Regions from separate parts of the Homo sapiens genome. Here region 2 is linked to region 1. The links come from fine-mapping of genetic effects on gene expression. Tissue or cell type: whole blood. Region 1 holds a variant in brackets; the other region holds the start of a gene. All regions are shown on one strand. Distances are from middle to middle.

The links. PIP is the estimated chance that this variant, and not a neighbour inherited with it, causes the effect.
Region 2: it holds the start of H3-3A, and the variant in region 1 is fine-mapped to the expression of H3-3A in whole blood (INTERVAL, PIP 0.99).

Annotation. Positions count from the first base shown.
Region 1 is chr1:226,033,331-226,041,434 of GRCh38, forward strand. No RefSeq gene overlaps it. Among named protein-coding and RNA genes, the nearest start is that of H3-3A-DT, 25 kb to the right of the region's middle. The variant C/CA (reference allele first, on the strand shown) is at 3,463.
Region 2 is chr1:226,057,641-226,065,744 of GRCh38, forward strand. H3-3A (H3.3 histone A) reads left to right here and starts at 5,076. Exons shown (of 4, transcript NM_002107.7): 1 at 5,076-5,171; 2 at 6,689-6,839; 3 at 8,016-8,104. The coding sequence starts at 6,712. It overlaps H3-3A-DT (H3-3A divergent transcript), which reads right to left and starts at 4,855. Exons shown (of 2, transcript NR_185887.1): 1 at 3,350-4,855. RefSeq lists silencers at 4,195-5,044, 4,631-4,796, 5,415-5,484 and an enhancer at 6,678-6,747.

The sequences.
Region 1 (8,104 bases):
CCTCAGCCTCCTGAGTAGCTGAGATTACAGGCATGTGCCACCACACCCCGCTAATTTTTGTATTTTTAGTACAGACGGGGTTTCACCATGTTGGTCAGGCTGGTCTCGAACTCCTGACTTGATGATCTGCCCGCCTAGGCCTCTCAAAGTGCTGGGATTACAGGCGTGAGCTGTCGTGCCCGGCCCCATCTTAATAAGTGTTAGTGTCCAATTCAGTGATATTAAACACATTCACAATGTTGTGCAGTCATCACCATCATCCATCTCTATAACACTTTTCATCCTGTAAAACTGAACCGTATACCTTAAACCAAATAACTCCCCATTCCCTCCTTCCCCTACCCCCTAGCAATCACTCTACTTTCTGTTTCTAGATTCAACTAGTTTGTTTAAGAGGTGATTGCGGGAAGACTAGAGTGGGGAAGTAAGGCAGGAAAGGGAAGGAAGCCAAGAAAAGGAACATTATTAAGCAAGTTGCTTCTGTGTAACTGCAGCTGGGGTTCAGTCCTACTGGGGACCCTGGGAGACAGTGCAGAACATGCCTCTGAGCTTTCCTACCCAAGAGGTGAGGAAGATGGGGAGCCTCCGGTTTCCATCCATCATTGGCTGAGGCCTGCTCGTAGGGTCAGTAACCCTTCAGCATGTCTGTGTCTCAGGTGGAAGGAAAACTGTCAGGTGAAGAATCCCAGGTGCTTGCAGTAGGACAGCCACTGGAATGTACTGGAATGCTGAATGACAAGGGGATATGGATCCCAAAAGAATTTCTGAGCTCCCTTTAAGGAACAGACTCTAAAGTGGTCCCCATGATCTCCACCTCCTAGTAACTCACACCTTTGTATAATCATATAATTCCCTCCCTTTGAGTGTGGGTGGGTCCAGTGACTGCTTCTTTTTTTTTCTTGTTTTTTTCTTTCTTTTTTTTTTTTTTTTTTTTTTTTTTTTTTTAAAGAGATGGGGTCTCACTGTGTTGCCTTGGCTAGAGTGCAGTTGCTGTTCACAGATGCAATTATAGCCCACTACAGCCTCTAACTCCTGGGCTCAAGCAATCCTTTTGCCTCAGCCTCCCAATCTAAGACTACTTCTAACCAACAGAATATGGCAAAGGTGATGGGCTGTTAGTCTGTGATTAGATTACATTATATACAATTCTACCCCACTAGCTCTGTTCCTCCCTTAGTGGCTTTGAGGAAGCAAGCTGCTATTTTGTAAGAGGACCTATCAAGAGGTCCACATGGCCAGGAACTGTGAGCAGCCTCATAGAGCTAAGGGCAGCTAACAGTCAGCAAAAATCCAGGCCCTTGGTCTTACAGCAGCAAGGAACCAAATTCTGCCAACAACCCGAATGAGTTTGGCAGCAGATCTGTCACTAGTCAGGCCTCCAGATGGAGCTGAGCCACGGCCGACACCATGATGACAGCCTTGCGGCCTGCACTATGCCCAGGCCCCTGACTCACAGGGTGTGGGATAATAAAGGGAAGTTGTTTTAAACTAGTGCATTTGTCGTAATACGTTATGCAGCATAGGAAACAAATATGCTCCCTTATCCTATAAGCCTCCAATCTGAGCAAGATGGCCTCAGCCCTTCTGCTTTTTCTTCTGATAACCTTTACTCCATGTCCGCTAATGAGCAATTCTTTTTTATCTTATTTTATTTTATTTATTTTATTTTTTTAAGACAGGGTCTCTGTCTGTTGCCCAGGCTGGAGTGCACTGGCATGATCATAGCTCACTGCAGCCTCGACCCTGGCTCAAGTGATCGTCCAACCACAGCTTCCCGAGTAGCTGGCACCACAGGTGTGTGCCACCACACCCGGATTTTTATAGGTTTTTTTCTTTTCTTTCTTTGTTTTTTTTTTTGTAGATGCGGGGTCTCACTATGTTCCCCAGGCTGGTTATGAACTCCTGGCCTCAAACGATCCACCTCGGCCTCCCGAAGTGTTGGGATTACAGGTGTGAACCACCACGCCCGGCAGCAATTCTTAGGGTTTAAATAAACGTATTGCTTTTTTCTCTTATTAGGAAAGTAAGACATATTCATTGTAAGGCATATAATATATATAAGCAAAAAAAGGAAAAAAAACAACCAATGCTGTTCATCTAACTTTTTGTTAGGTAAGTTCAGACTTTCTTCTGGAGAGTTCTCTCTGTCTTTAAGTTCTATATTCTCTTTGATCCCTACTATGAAAGAACTTTTACCCAAATATAAATGTATAATTAGAAAAGATTGTATTTATATGGCTTGTTCTTGACCTTTTCCAAAGAGGTGTACACTGAAAATGCCCATATAATTGAGAAAGGCATTATTCCCAGGGGGAAAATTTCCATGGACATAGTAAAGCCATTATCCAGCTTTGTTCAGAGGGATTCTCATCCTACCTGAGGAGGAAAGAGGTGCCAAGCATTTGGGACCATTGAGTCCAAACTTCTTTTGAGTAAATAAAGGGCTTTTGCATTTAGCATGTAGGTGCTGAATTCAGCAAAGGAGGCACAGCAGAGACAGAGGAGCTCTCTGTATCTTCCTTCACCTTTTTACTTCCCTCTTTGCCTGTGGGCAGCAGTGAAAGAAGAATCTCCTGCTGGCTCTAAGACTCCCAGGGAATAGCCCCAAGGTTTTTCCCTCTTCCTTTCTCACTTTCCTTCTTTCTGCTGCTCACAGAGCAGTTCCAATTCTACCAATTCTACCATGATGTAGTCTCCATGAGGCCTCTTGCCAATAGGAAAAACTCCTCCCCTTCCTACTGCACTTGTGCTCCTTTCTGGAGCATCACTGGGTGTTTTCAGTTCACCCAAGTGTTCATTTAACAAACACCAGGTAGGCCGGGTGCAGTGGCTCATGCCTGTAATCCCAGCACTTTGGGAGACGGAGGCGGGTGGATCACAAAGTCAGGAGTTCAAGACTAGTCTGGCCAACATGGTGAAACCCCGTGTCTACTAAAAATACAAAATTTATCTGGGTGTGGTGGCTCAATTTTTTTGAGACGGAGTTTCACTGTTGTTGCCCAGGCTGGAGTGCAGTGGCACGATCTCGGCTCACTGCAACCTCCGCCTCTCGGGTTCAAGTGATTCTCCTGCCTCAGCCTCCCAAATAGCTAGGATTACAGGCATGTGCCACTGAGCCCAGCTAATTTTTGTATTTTTAGTAGAGACAGGTTTCACCATGTTGGCCAGGCTGGTCTCGAACTCCTGACCTCAAGTGATCCACCCACCTTGGCCTCCCAAAGTGCTGGGAATAGAGGTGTGAGCCACTGTGCCAGGCCAATTTACATGCAATTATAAGAGACAGTACAATCCTGTCTCTATAAAAAAGAAAATAATTAGCCAAGCATGGTGGTACATGCCTGTAGCCCTAGCTACTTGGGAGGCTGAGATAGGAAGATCACTTGAGCCTGGGAGGTTGAGGCTTCAGTGGGCTGTGATCACACCACTGCACTCCAGTTTGGGTGACAGAGCAAGACCCTATCT[C/CA]AAAAAAAAAAAAAAAAAAAAGGGAGATAATATAGAATCACAATGTCTTACAATTTCACACTTACTAGGATGGCTGTAATTAAAAAAAAAAAAAAACCAGACAATAACAAATGTTGGTAAGGATGTGGAGAAATCAGACCCCTCAGACATTGCTTATGGAAATGCAAAACAGTGCCACCCCTTTGAAAAAAGCTTGGTGATTCCTTAGAAAGTTAAACACAGAGGGCCGGGCACGATGGCTCACGCCTGTAATCCCAGCACTTTGGGAGGCCAAGGCAGGTGGATCACGACGTCAGGAGTTCGAGACCAGCCTGACCAACACGGTGAAACCCCGTCTCTACTAAAAATACAAAAATTAGCTGGGCGTGGTGGCGTGCACCTGTAATCCCAGCTACTCAGGCCTCAGGCTGAGGCAGGAGAATCGCTTGAACCCGGGAGGCAGAGGTTGTAGTGAGCCGAGATCACGCCACTGCACTCCAGCCTGGGCGACAGAGTGAGACTCCATCTCAAAAAAAAAAAAAAAAGAAAAAGAAAGTTAAACATACAGTTACTATATGACTCCGCAATTCCACTCCTAGGTATAAATACCTAAGAGAATTAAAAACACATGTTCACACAAAAACTAGTACATGAATGTCCACAGCAGCATTATTCATAGTAGCCAAGAAGTAGAAACAACCCAAATGTCCATCAACTTATGAATATGATAAATAAAATGCAGAAGTAGACCCATACAATGAAGTATTATTTGGCTGTAAAAAGAAATGAAGTGCAGACACATTTTATAAAATATTAATAGATGGATTTTGAAAACCTTGTGCTAAGTGACAGAAGCCAGACACAAGGCCACATATTGTATGATTCCATTAATATGAAATATCTAGAGTAGGCAAATCCAGAGACAGAAAGTAGATTAGTGGCTGCCAGGAGCTGGGGGAGAGGGGAACAGGGAGTAACTAATAATGGATACAGGGTTTCTTTTGGGGGTGATGAAGAGGTTCTAAAATTAGATAGTGCTGAAGTTGCACAACTTTGTAAATATGTTAAAAACCACTAAATTTTACACATTAAAAAGGTAAATATTACGTGAATTTTATCTCAATAAAATTTATTGAAAAAAGAAATATGCAGAGAGATCCTGCGTACCCTTCACCCATTTCCCCCCAATGGTAACATCTTATATAACTATTGTACAATATCACAGCCAGGAAACTGACATTGATAGAACCCTTCGCCATTACTCAGATGTCATCAATTTTTAGTTTTTTAGTATTTAGTTCTTTTTTTTTTTGAGATGGAGTCTCACTCTGCTGCCCATGCTGGAGTGCAGTGGCGCGATCTCGGCTCACTGCAACCTCCACCTCCAGGGTTCAAGTGATTCTCCAGCCTCAGTCTCCTGCGTAGCTGGGATTACAGGCATGTGCCATCACACTCAGCTAATTTTAGTATTTTTAGTAGAGATGGGGTTTCACCATGTTGGCCAGGCTGGTCTTGAACTTCTGACCTCAAGTGATATGCCTGCCTCAGCCTCCCAAAGTGCTGGGATTACAGGCATGAGCCACCATACCCAGCCACTCATGTGTGTGTATTTGGTTCTAAGCAAGTTTACATGTGTGGATTCACGTGACCACCACCAAACTCAAGATGAAGAACAGTTCCACCACACAGACCCCTTATGCTACCTTTTTATGGCCACAGTCACTCTTCCCTTCTACCTGACCCCTGATCTGTTTTCTATCTCTATACATTTATTGTTTCAAGAATATTATCTAAAACGAATCACACAGTATGCAACTTGAGATTGGCTTTTTTCACTCAGCAAAATTCTCTGGAGATCCATCCAGATCGTCATGTGTATCAATAATTCCTTCCCTTTTATTGCTGAGTAGTATTCCATGGTATGAATGTACCATAGTTTATTGAACCTTCCACCATTAAAGGACATTTCAGTTGTTTCCAGTTTGGGGCAATTAGGAATAAAGCTATTGTGAACAGTTATGACCAGGAACATAAAAACTTTCATTTCTCTGGGTAGATGCCCAGGAGTGTAATTGCTGCATCATATGGCAGGTGCATATTTAATATTGTAAGAAGCAGTCATATTCTTTGCTAGAGTGGCCATGCCATTTTATTTTCCTACTGGCAATATGTGAGTGATCAAAGTTCTCTCTATCCTCACCAGCATTTAATGGTGTCATTATTTTTTATTTCAGTCATTCGGATCATACATATACTTTTTACAAGTTAGACAAACATGCACCATACTCTTGACAGCGGTGGTTTCTAGTGTATGTATGGGTTAATTCAATGGAAGACTCTCCTTTATATATTATATACTTTTGTAGTTTTTTGTTTTTGTTTTTGTTTTTTTTTGACAGAGTCTTACTCTGTCACCCAGGCTGGAGTGCAGTGGCACGATCTCGGCTCATTGCAAGCTCCACCTCCCGGGTTCACGCCATTCTCCTGCCTCAGCCTCCCGAGTAGCTGGGACTACAGGCACCCGCCACCACGCCCAGCTAATTTTTTGTATTTTTAGTAGAGACGGGGTTTCACCGTGTTAGCCAGGATGGTCTCAATCTCCTGACCTCGTGATCCGCCCACCTTGGCCTCCCAAAGTGCTGGGATTACAGGTGTGAACCACTGCGCCTTTTTTTTTTTTTTTTTTTTTGCGACAGAGTCTTGCTCTGTCACCCAGAGTGGAGTGCAGTGGCACAATTCGGCTCACTGCAACCTCCGCCTCCCGGATTCAAGCGATTCTCCTGCCTCAGCTCCCGAGTAGCTGGGATTACAGGCATCTGCCACCATGCCTGGCTAATATTTTTAGTAGAGACGGGGTTTCACCATGTTGGCCAGGCTGGTCTCGAACTCCTGACCTCTGGTGATCCGCCTGCCTAGGCCTCCCAAAGTGCTAGGGGCATGAGCCACCACGACCGGCCTGTAGTGTTCAAATTTTACATAACTTAATGTTGTACTTGTAATCTAAAACGCAATAAGGATTTTAAAAAGTTGGCCAGGCACAGTGGCTCACGCCTGTAATCCCAGCACTTTGGGAGGCTGAGGCAGGCGGATCACCTGAGGTCAGGAGTTTGAGACCAGTCTGGTCAACATGGTGAAACCCCGTCTCTACTAAAAGAACAAAAATTAGCCAGGCATGGTGGTGCATGCCTGTAATCCCAGCTACTCGGGAGGCTGAGGCAGGAGAATCACTTGAACCTGGGAGATGGAGGTTGCAGTGAGCCGAGATGGCACCATTGCACTCCAGCCTGGGCGACAGTGAGATTTCGTCTCCAGAAAAAAAAAAATTGTTCTTCTGCATCAATTTTTTTTTTTTTTGAAGACAGAGTCTCACCCTATTGCCCAGGCTGGAGTGCAGTGGTGCAATGTCAGCTCACTGCAACCTCCGCCTCCTGGGTTAAATTAATTCTCCCTGCCTCATTCTCCTGAGTAGCTGGGATTACAGGCACCCGCCACCACACTCAGCTAATTTTTGTATTTTTAGTAGAGATGGGGTTTGGCCATAATCCCAGGAGAATTGCTTGATCCTGGGAGGCGGAGGTTGCAGTGAGCTGAGATCGTGCCATGGCACTCCAGCCTAAGCGACAGAGCAAGACTCCGTCTCAATAAATAAATAAATAAATAAATAAATAAATAAATAAATAAAGTTAATAGGTAGTAAGGAAGTGGAGACGATTATTAGAAACTATTCTGTAGATTAATTGTCCCTGGAAGGAAGGGGAGATGTGGGTCAGCAGAGGAGAGAAGACAGCATTCTAACAGAGAAGGGGAGGCTGAGCACACAGGACGGGGAAGCCATGCGCTGGCTATGCTCCGTGTACCCAAGACCCTCACTTCTCCACAACTGCTCCGTGTTCCAGGAGACTCCATCAGGCAGCCTCCACTGCCCTCCAGCTTCCAGGAGCCTCTGCACCACGGATGGGCAGGAGAGAGAGCGGCAAGGCTTGTTGCTGTCAAATACAACTCTACTCCACCTCACTCCCAGGCCCCCACTCTCCACAGAGCCCACTTGTGCCAGGCCCCAGGGTCACCGTTTACCCCCCTTGTGGGTCCTTGCTATTGCCTGTGCCCACACACCCTGTCCTGTTCTGCTTACACCCTGTGGGTGGGCTCTTCATCGAACCCTGCTTAAACTCTGACGGTGCTCGGCAGCCCAAGTTTTGAGTGCACCACCTCTCTTCTGCCAGGACCCTGATGGGTGCATCTAACGAGGCAACCCCCAAAACAGTCAGGAGGGACCTAGATCAAGAGCTAAAGCAAGGGCAGACCCAGTTCTCTGAGACAGGAGGAAGGCAGCAGAATGGTCTGACAAAGATGTCTGCAGGCAGGAGGGTCTGCAGAATTCATACCTAATTCCCTCAGTTTTCTTGGTGAACCAGGGGGTGGTGACTTGTGCTAGGCACCCAAACTAGAGACCAATCACTCCTTTTCACAAACATTTTATAAAGAATAGTCTTGTTCTCTTCTAATGAAGAAAGAGTTTTCTCTGCTCTTTTAGTTAGGCTGCTGAGCACTGCTGGGTTTTATTATCACGAAGCTAATGAGGGGTTAAGGATGTTGACTAGAGCCAGACTGTCTAGTTTGAGTCCTCATTATTGCTATTTTGTGACCTTGGACAAGTCACTTA
Region 2 (8,104 bases), 24 kb after region 1:
TTTTGTAGAGACGGGGTTTCTCCATGTTGGCCAGGCTGGTCTTCTCCTGACCTCAGGTGATCTGCCTGTTTTGGCGTCCCAAAAGTGCTGGGATTACAGGCGCAGTGGCCCACACCTGTAATCCCAGCACTTTGGGAGGCTGAGGCAGGCGGATCATCTGAGGTTGAGTTCCAGGCCAGCCTGACCAACATGGAGAAACCCGGTCTCTACTAATAACACAAAATTAGCCAGAACTGGTGGTGCATGTCTGTAATCCCAGCTGCTCAGGAGGCTGAGGCAGGAGAATCGCTTGAACTCGGGAGGTAGAGGTTGCAGTGAGCCGAGATCGAGCCACTGCACTCCAGCCTGGGCAACAAGAGCAAAACTCTTGTCTCAAAAAAAAAAAAAATAAACAAACAAACAAATAAAAAAGTGCTGGGATTACAGGCTTGAGCTACCATGCCAAGCCCAAATTTAAAAATCAAGTTCCATATGAGTGGCTCCAAATACCCTCCACTAATCCTCGGTGCAACTTACAAATATGATCATTTTCTTCTTTTTTTTTTTGACATGGAGTTTCGCTCTTGTTGCCCAGGCTGGAGTGCAGTGGTGTGATCTCAGCTCACTGCAACCTCCACCTCCCGGGTTCAAGTGATTCTCCTGCCTCAGGCCTCCCAAGTAGCTGGGATTACAAGTGCCCACGACCATGCCTGGCTAATTTTTTATATTTTTAGTAGAGACGGGGTTTCATTATATTGGCCAGGTTGGTCTCGAACTCCTGACCTCAGGTGATTCACCAACCTCGGCCTCCCAAAGTGCAGGGATTAGAGGTGTGAGCCACTGCACCTGGCCAAATATGATCATTTTCTAAGAAGAAAATGACATGGGAAAGGTTAGAAAGTTTGCCTTAGAAGATGGTGAGACAGTCCTATCAAAAGCTGGTGGAAGAGAATTCAAGCTTCAGAAAGAACAGATGCAATGATCCTAAGGCAGAGGAGGACTTGATGGACCAGGGGTGGCTAGTCTGCAGCACAGTGCGGAGGGGAAAGAGGGGTAATGCCAGGGCCCACACATGTGGAATTTAACCAAGAGCAGTGGGAGGCCACTGAATGGATTAAGCAAGAATGCAACCTAATCTGATTTATATTCTATAATCTAATCTGTGTCTGCTTGGTAGCAAATAAAATACAGAGGTGCAGGAGTGGAAAGAGAAAGGTCATACAGAAAGTTACTGTTGAAGGGCAGGTAAGAGATGAGAAGAGGAGTAGGTCATTCTGATAAGCATTTCAGAGCAAGACCAATAGACTGGCTATCGGGGTGAAAGAAAAAGAGGCTCAAGGAGGCTGTCTGTACTTTTTGGTTTGAGTTGAGTAAATGGTAGTGCTATTTACTGGACAAGACTGAGGGAAAGGACAGTTTTAGACAGTGTGGATCCAAAGCCTCAGGATAAATGATCCATATTTTTCTTTTGTTTGAGACGGAGTCTTGCTCTGTCGCCCAGACTGGAGTGCAGTGGCGCAGTCTCTGCTCACTGCAACCTCCGCCTCCTGGGGTTCAAGCAATTCTCCTACCTCAGCCTCCCAAGTAGCTGGGACTACAGGCGTGAGCCACCACGCCTGGCTAATTTTTGTATTTTTAGTAGAGATAGGGTTTCGCCATGTTGGCCAAGGTGGTCTCCAACTCCTGACCTCAAGTGATCAGCCCACCTCAGCCTCCCAAAGTGCTGGGATTACAAGTGTGAGCCACCACGCCTGGCCAATCCATATTTTTCAACAAAGTACAAATACAGAGAAAGAATCTGTAGATTATAAGAGATTTAAGGGGCACATCAATCATCTATTTGACTCCTATGATACATACTAAATTATCTACAGATGAAATAATGCAGGCTGGGATTTGCTTCAAAATAATTCAAATCGGTGAGGTAGAAGTGAGTAGAGTATAGAGGGAACCCAATATTGGTCATGAGTCAGTAATTTCTAAAGATGGGTACAAGGGGTTCATTGTTTTATTCTATTTTTCTACATGATAATTTCCATGTAACTGGATGAGATCACCTAATAAAAAGGTACAGCAAATGATCAGGGACAGGAGAAAAAACAGACAAGACCACCATTACCTCAGAGGTTATATTCTTTGGGGAGGAACTGGACAATAAGCAAGTGAACAAATGATAGATGTAAATCAATGTGATAAAAAGGTGATGTGAAATCAATGTGATAAAGTGTGCATGGAGATAGCATTACAGTGACCAGAAGCATCTCCATGAGGCAGTAATCTTTGCAGTTGATTGACAGGAGCCAAGCAGATATGAATAGCGTTGCTTTTAAAATCCTTTCCATTCTACTTTTCTACTTATAAACAAATCTAAATTCATGGCCATAAGTACTCTATTCTAAGGAAAATATTTTAACTTAAAACCTTTTGCTCCCATCCTCCCCATTTCTTTTTTAACTGCAAATGTTGAGGCCATTATTAGCCCAAGAATTCTATTTTTTTTTTTTTCTGAGATGGAGTCTTACTGTTGCCCAGGCTGAAGTGCAGTGGCAAAATTTCGGCTCACTGCAACCTCCACCTCCCAAATTCAAGCAATCCTCCCACTTCAGCCTCCCAAGTAGCTAGGATTACAGACGTGTGCCACCATGACGGCTAATTTTTATTTTTAGTAGAGACAGGGTTTCTCCAGGTTGGCCAGGTTGGTCTCAAACTCCTGATCTCAAGTGATCCACCCACCTCGGCCTCCCAAAGCGCTGGGATTACAGATGTGAGCCATTGTGCTGGGCCTGAGTTCTAGTAAAGCCAATTCAGGACTGACCCGTAGGGCCCTGTGAGAATCCCTTCTTGCTCTGGCACCTCTCCTTCCCCATTATCTAGACTCTACAGTTCACCTCTCTCATTAGCTATAGTTTTTGCCAATCTTGGGGCTCCAAAGTCCCTCTTTCTTTACCCCCTCCTGGTGCTACTTCCCTGTGCAAAGCAGTGCTTCCAGAGATCATAAGCCCCATGAGGGCAGGAACACTGCTTGTGTTATTCACTGCTGCATTCCCAGCACCCCTGAATTGTGCTGAGCAGAGTTGGCACTCAATAAATATTCATTCAGTGAGAAAACTTCCTGAAGCCACTAGGAGGGTAACCAGTCACCTCTCCAGGTGCTTAAATACTTGAACCTACTAGAAAGAATTTGTGGCCTAACTTCATAGAGATAAATATTATTATTCCCATTTCACAAATGGACAGACAGCTGAGTTAGTTCAAATCATCTAAGATCATAATTACTCTACCTAAAATGGTCTGACCCTTGGTTAGAAATATTTTTTAAAGCCAAGAAGTAGAAGCTATTGAAAAATCCAGCATACAAAGAAAACATTACCCATGTCATTTAACATTTCTTGAAGATATGATGCATTTAACTAATGCAGAACAGCCTTCCTGGATAAATCCAACAATAAATATTTCGGTTTCCTGAAAACAAAACAAAAAACAAGCAAAATAACTCATCTTGGCTTGAATTATAGGAAATTCTTTGCTGGCAGCTCGGTCCAAGCTGATTGCATATGTGCTTTTAGGATAGGATTAGAGATTGCATGTGTTCTGCACAGCAACCATGGACACTTAACATTCATGAAATAATAATGAAACGGGAGGCCTGGATTTTTGTCTGTTTGTTTCTCCTAGGTCTCTTCCTCACTTAAGTGACCTTGGACAAATCCATTTCTTCCCTCGTATCTGATTTCCATGTATCTGTTTCGGGATAATGTTTATCACTAAGCCGCTTTGTGAGATCTTCAGATTACAAATAATTACTGCCCTTCATTTATGAAATTTTCCTCCTTCACTACCCTACGGGATATTTGCATGACCCTTCCATTGAAAACCTTTACACACAGTTGTGAAGCGTCAATACCATCTAGGGACGGTTCAGAGGTTCCAAAGCCAATCAACTGACAAGTCGTGAGGATAACTTGGGCCATGAAAAGTCCGTTTCCTATGCTACTGAGAATTGGAAAACAGGTATATGTACTAATTCCCAAACCACGTTTGCCTTCTTTCTGCCGTTTTCAGCCTCTTCTAAACTATGCAGAAGCTGCGGACATTTGACTATCTATATTCGGCAATTCCTTTCCAAAGCAATCCTACCGAAAACAGATCACACGGCCCCCACGGGCGGGCAGGACAAGCCACCAGGCCCTGGTGCAGGAGCTGCGCGCTCCACACATTGTTTAGAGGCCGACGCGACACAGCCATCTTGCGTCGGGGGCCCGGGCCCGGGAGGAGAGCGAGCCCCGTCCCCTGATCCCGGAGGCCAACACCGGCGAGGGGCTGCCCTGCACGCAGGCGGCCGGCCCAGGAGTCTTAGCGGATCAAGTTGTCTACGGCGGACTCGGGCCGGTCCCGCAGGACCCGGCCGCACTTGGCCGAGCGCGCAGGCGGGAAGGAGGCCGTCGGTCCGCCCCTCCCGCTGCCGCAGCGGCCAGGTCCGACAGCGGGCGCGGGACGCTGGATTCCTATTTGCCAGCTTCCTGCTGGGGAGCGTTTTCCAATGGGGCGCGGCGACCCGGCCGACCGCGTCCTCCTCCCCCACTGCCGCCCGGGTCTCCTCGGGGGCGCGCGCCGGGGCCCGCGCGGGGGCAGCCCCTCCCTCCCCTCCCCGCCGCGGCCCGAGACGCCCGCAGGCCGGGCGTTCACCCGCCGCGCCTCCGCCCGCCTTCCCCTCCCCCCACTTCCCTCCGGGCGCCCCAAACCCGGGCTTCGGGGGTTCGACGCCGTGCGCACACGGAGCGGGATGGGAGTGCAGGGCCGGGGGCGGGGGCTGGCCGGGTGCGGGCGGCAGTCTCGGCGGGAGCCGGCGGCCCCTCAGCGTGTCTTTTGTGTTTGTACACACACGGCGCGAGGCGGCCTGGAGGAGGGAGCGGGCGGCGCGCGGGGGAGGGGCGAGCGCGCGCCAGCGAACGGGCGCGCGGGGGGAAGGGCGGGGGCGGGGCGCGAGAGGAGCTATGGGGGCGGGGCCGAGCCTTCCCTCCATTGTGTGTGATTGGCTGGCGCGCGGCGCGGGGGCGGGGCGGCGTGTGTTGGGGGATAGCCTCGGTGTCAGCCATCTTTCAATTGTGTTCGCAGCCGCCGCCGCGCCGCCGTCGCTCTCCAACGCCAGCGCCGCCTCTCGCTCGCCGAGCTCCAGCCGAAGGAGAAGGGGGGTAAGTTTCCCCGTCTGCCCGCTTCCCCGGAACCGAGCCCCGCTTGCCGTCAGCCCCGAGCCGGGCCCTGGCGGTGCCGGGAGGGGACCCATAGCCCCTCCGGCTTAGCCCACAAACTTTTTGGCCCAGAAATGGAGGTGAGGAGCGAGTTTCCCTGTTCCCTCTGGCGGCGGCGGCTCCCCCGTCTCTCGCCGCCTCAGCCCAACAGCAGCAACCGCCGCGGCGCCGAGCCTGCTCTCCCTCCTCCTCCCCGCGCCCCTGGCTCCTCTTTCTTCGGTGAAATCCCGCCCGCCGCCCCTTCCCCGGACCCCAAACCTTCACCATGACCCGCGCGGGCCTCTTAACTACCGCCCCCGGGCCCCAGCCCCCAGTTTTCGAGCGGGAAAGGGGTGGAAATCGCCGCCGCTTCGCACCCTGGGGTAACTCGCTTTTTGCTGCCTCCCCACAGTTGTTGCTAAGCTTCACCATCTTGTCTCTCTTCTCTGGTCACCGACCATATTTTTTCCCCCGTTTCTCTCTTCCCCATTTCAAAAAAGCAAGAATTTTTAAAAGAGGGACGTTTTTTTCCCTTTTTTGGAGAGGCGGAAACTTGATGCATTTGAAATGCAAAAAAAACTTTTGCATTTTGGAGGGCGGCACGTGGCAGGGGATAGGGGTATTTTCGAGCGATTTGGTGTTTTGTCTCTTTGGAACGGAATCGGATACGTTTTGCGATTGTTTCCATTTTGTTCTGGTCGGGGAGCCGAGTTGGTTCCTGCTCGAGGCGCTGGGAGCGAGGCGGGCAGGTTGGGGGACCCTGTGCCGAGGGACCCGAAGGAGGCAAAACCAAAAGTTTATGTGGTGCTTGGGGTGGACCGGTCGGCGGATGTCGTGCGTTAATTAAAGCCTGGGTGCGGGGCACTTTTTATTTCACTGCGAAGCCTGTGAGGACTGGACGCGAGGACGGGGCTTTGTAGAATGCTCGCTGGTGGTAGCTGTTGTTCCTCTCTTGTTTTTTCGAGACGCCTTTTTGTCAACATAACTGTAAAGATGCAAAACCAAGAATATTTTCAGATATTTACAGCAATCCATCAACAGTCAGACGAAGGGGGGGCAGCCAAAGTGGGGGGGAGTAAGACCTTTTTTTTGCTGTAATTTGACTCGACCTTCCAGTGGTTTGTGCCTTTTTTCTTTTGACTTGTTTGTGGATGGAATGTTTACAGACATTTCTAATTACTGCTTTAATTAAATAAATTGGATCAAAGGCCGTTCGAGGTATTTTTGTTTTGCCGTTTGTCGCTCAGAATTGGCATTTTGAGAGGTGATTGATACTGCTAACAATTTTCTAGTACTCTAGTTTGTTTCAAGAAGAGATTTTGGGTAGACGTAATCTTCACCCTTTCAAATTATATAACAATACGAACATTATTTTTTATACTGATCATAATTTCCAGATTTGGGGAGGGGGTGATCGTGGCAGGAAAAGTTGTATGTTTGGTAGTTGCATATGGTGATTTTTGATTTTTCAATGCTGGTAGGTAAGTAAGGAGGTCTCTGTACCATGGCTCGTACAAAGCAGACTGCCCGCAAATCGACCGGTGGTAAAGCACCCAGGAAGCAACTGGCTACAAAAGCCGCTCGCAAGAGTGCGCCCTCTACTGGAGGGGTGAAGAAACCTCATCGTTACAGGTATTAAAAAACAGGAAAAAAATGGGACAAAGTCTCTCTTGTATGTATCCACATAATTTAACAAAAAGATGGATAACAGGAAAACTTTTTGCTTTAGAGAAACTTTTTTTTTTCATTTGAACACTTAACTACTGCTTAAATAAATGTACTGTATGATCATTTATATATAAAGTTAAGTATTAGGTTTTATTGAAAACGTTTAACTTTGAAGCCATAATCTTACCTGGAGGTCTAAGGAGACCTCGTATATCACTGATAATGTTAATGGGATATATTGACATTTTAGTTAACTATTAGTAATTCTTTAAAAATAGTTAAGTGTTGCTTTCTTGAATACACTTTTGAGGTTATCTTTCCTAGTTTTTGGCAAAATAATAATATAATCGAGATTGGGTGTTTTATAAAGTTCCTACCCCCTCATTTACTTGATTAGCTTATTTCCTTCTGTATTAGCTCTTTTGATTGTGAACTACCTGAGCCACTGTGTTGTTAAGGGCATCTGCCATTAGAGGGCAGAAGTTGCCTAGACTTAGCCTCCGCAAATATTACGATTAACCTAAAATAAAAGCTCATACAGTGGAAGAAATAAGTCAGAATGAGAGGTAAATTTCTTGCTGACAATTACTTAGTAAAAAAAACTTTTCCACGTGGAAGGAACACTGCACAATCGGGTGTATTCAAATTTAATAGTTGATGAGGGGTGAACTGTAGTCAGGGTAGAGGTATTCTGGGAAATAGAACTTGAATGCCACAAGCAGATTTTTAAATGAAGTTCATTGGGTTGTGTTGGTCATCTTTAAGGGCTCTTAAGATAATAGAGGGTGTAGGGAAGGAGAGTGGTGCTAAATTGAGGGGAGCCAACTTCTTCATTAGCCTGACAGCTAATACCTTCCCAAGGTTTATATACATGAATAACTTTTTAAAATGAAAATAAATAGGGCTTTGATGAATTTCTTGCTAAGAATGCATTTTAATTTCATGCTTTTTGCTTTAAAGGTATTGTTACTAGATTTGAATGTTCACATCTTAAGTTGATCAGTGAAATTTGATACTGAAGCTGAAGAATTGTTGGGTGGCTTATTTTTTGAAAGATTACTGCATTTCTTTGAAGCTGCCCACTTACCTTTTTGTGCTAGTTATGTTTTTGGTAACAGTTTCTTTATTAATTTTTTAAAGGCCTGGTACTGTGGCGCTCCGTGAAATTAGACGTTATCAGAAGTCCACTGAACTTCTGATTCGCAAACTTCCCTTCCAGCGTCTGGTGC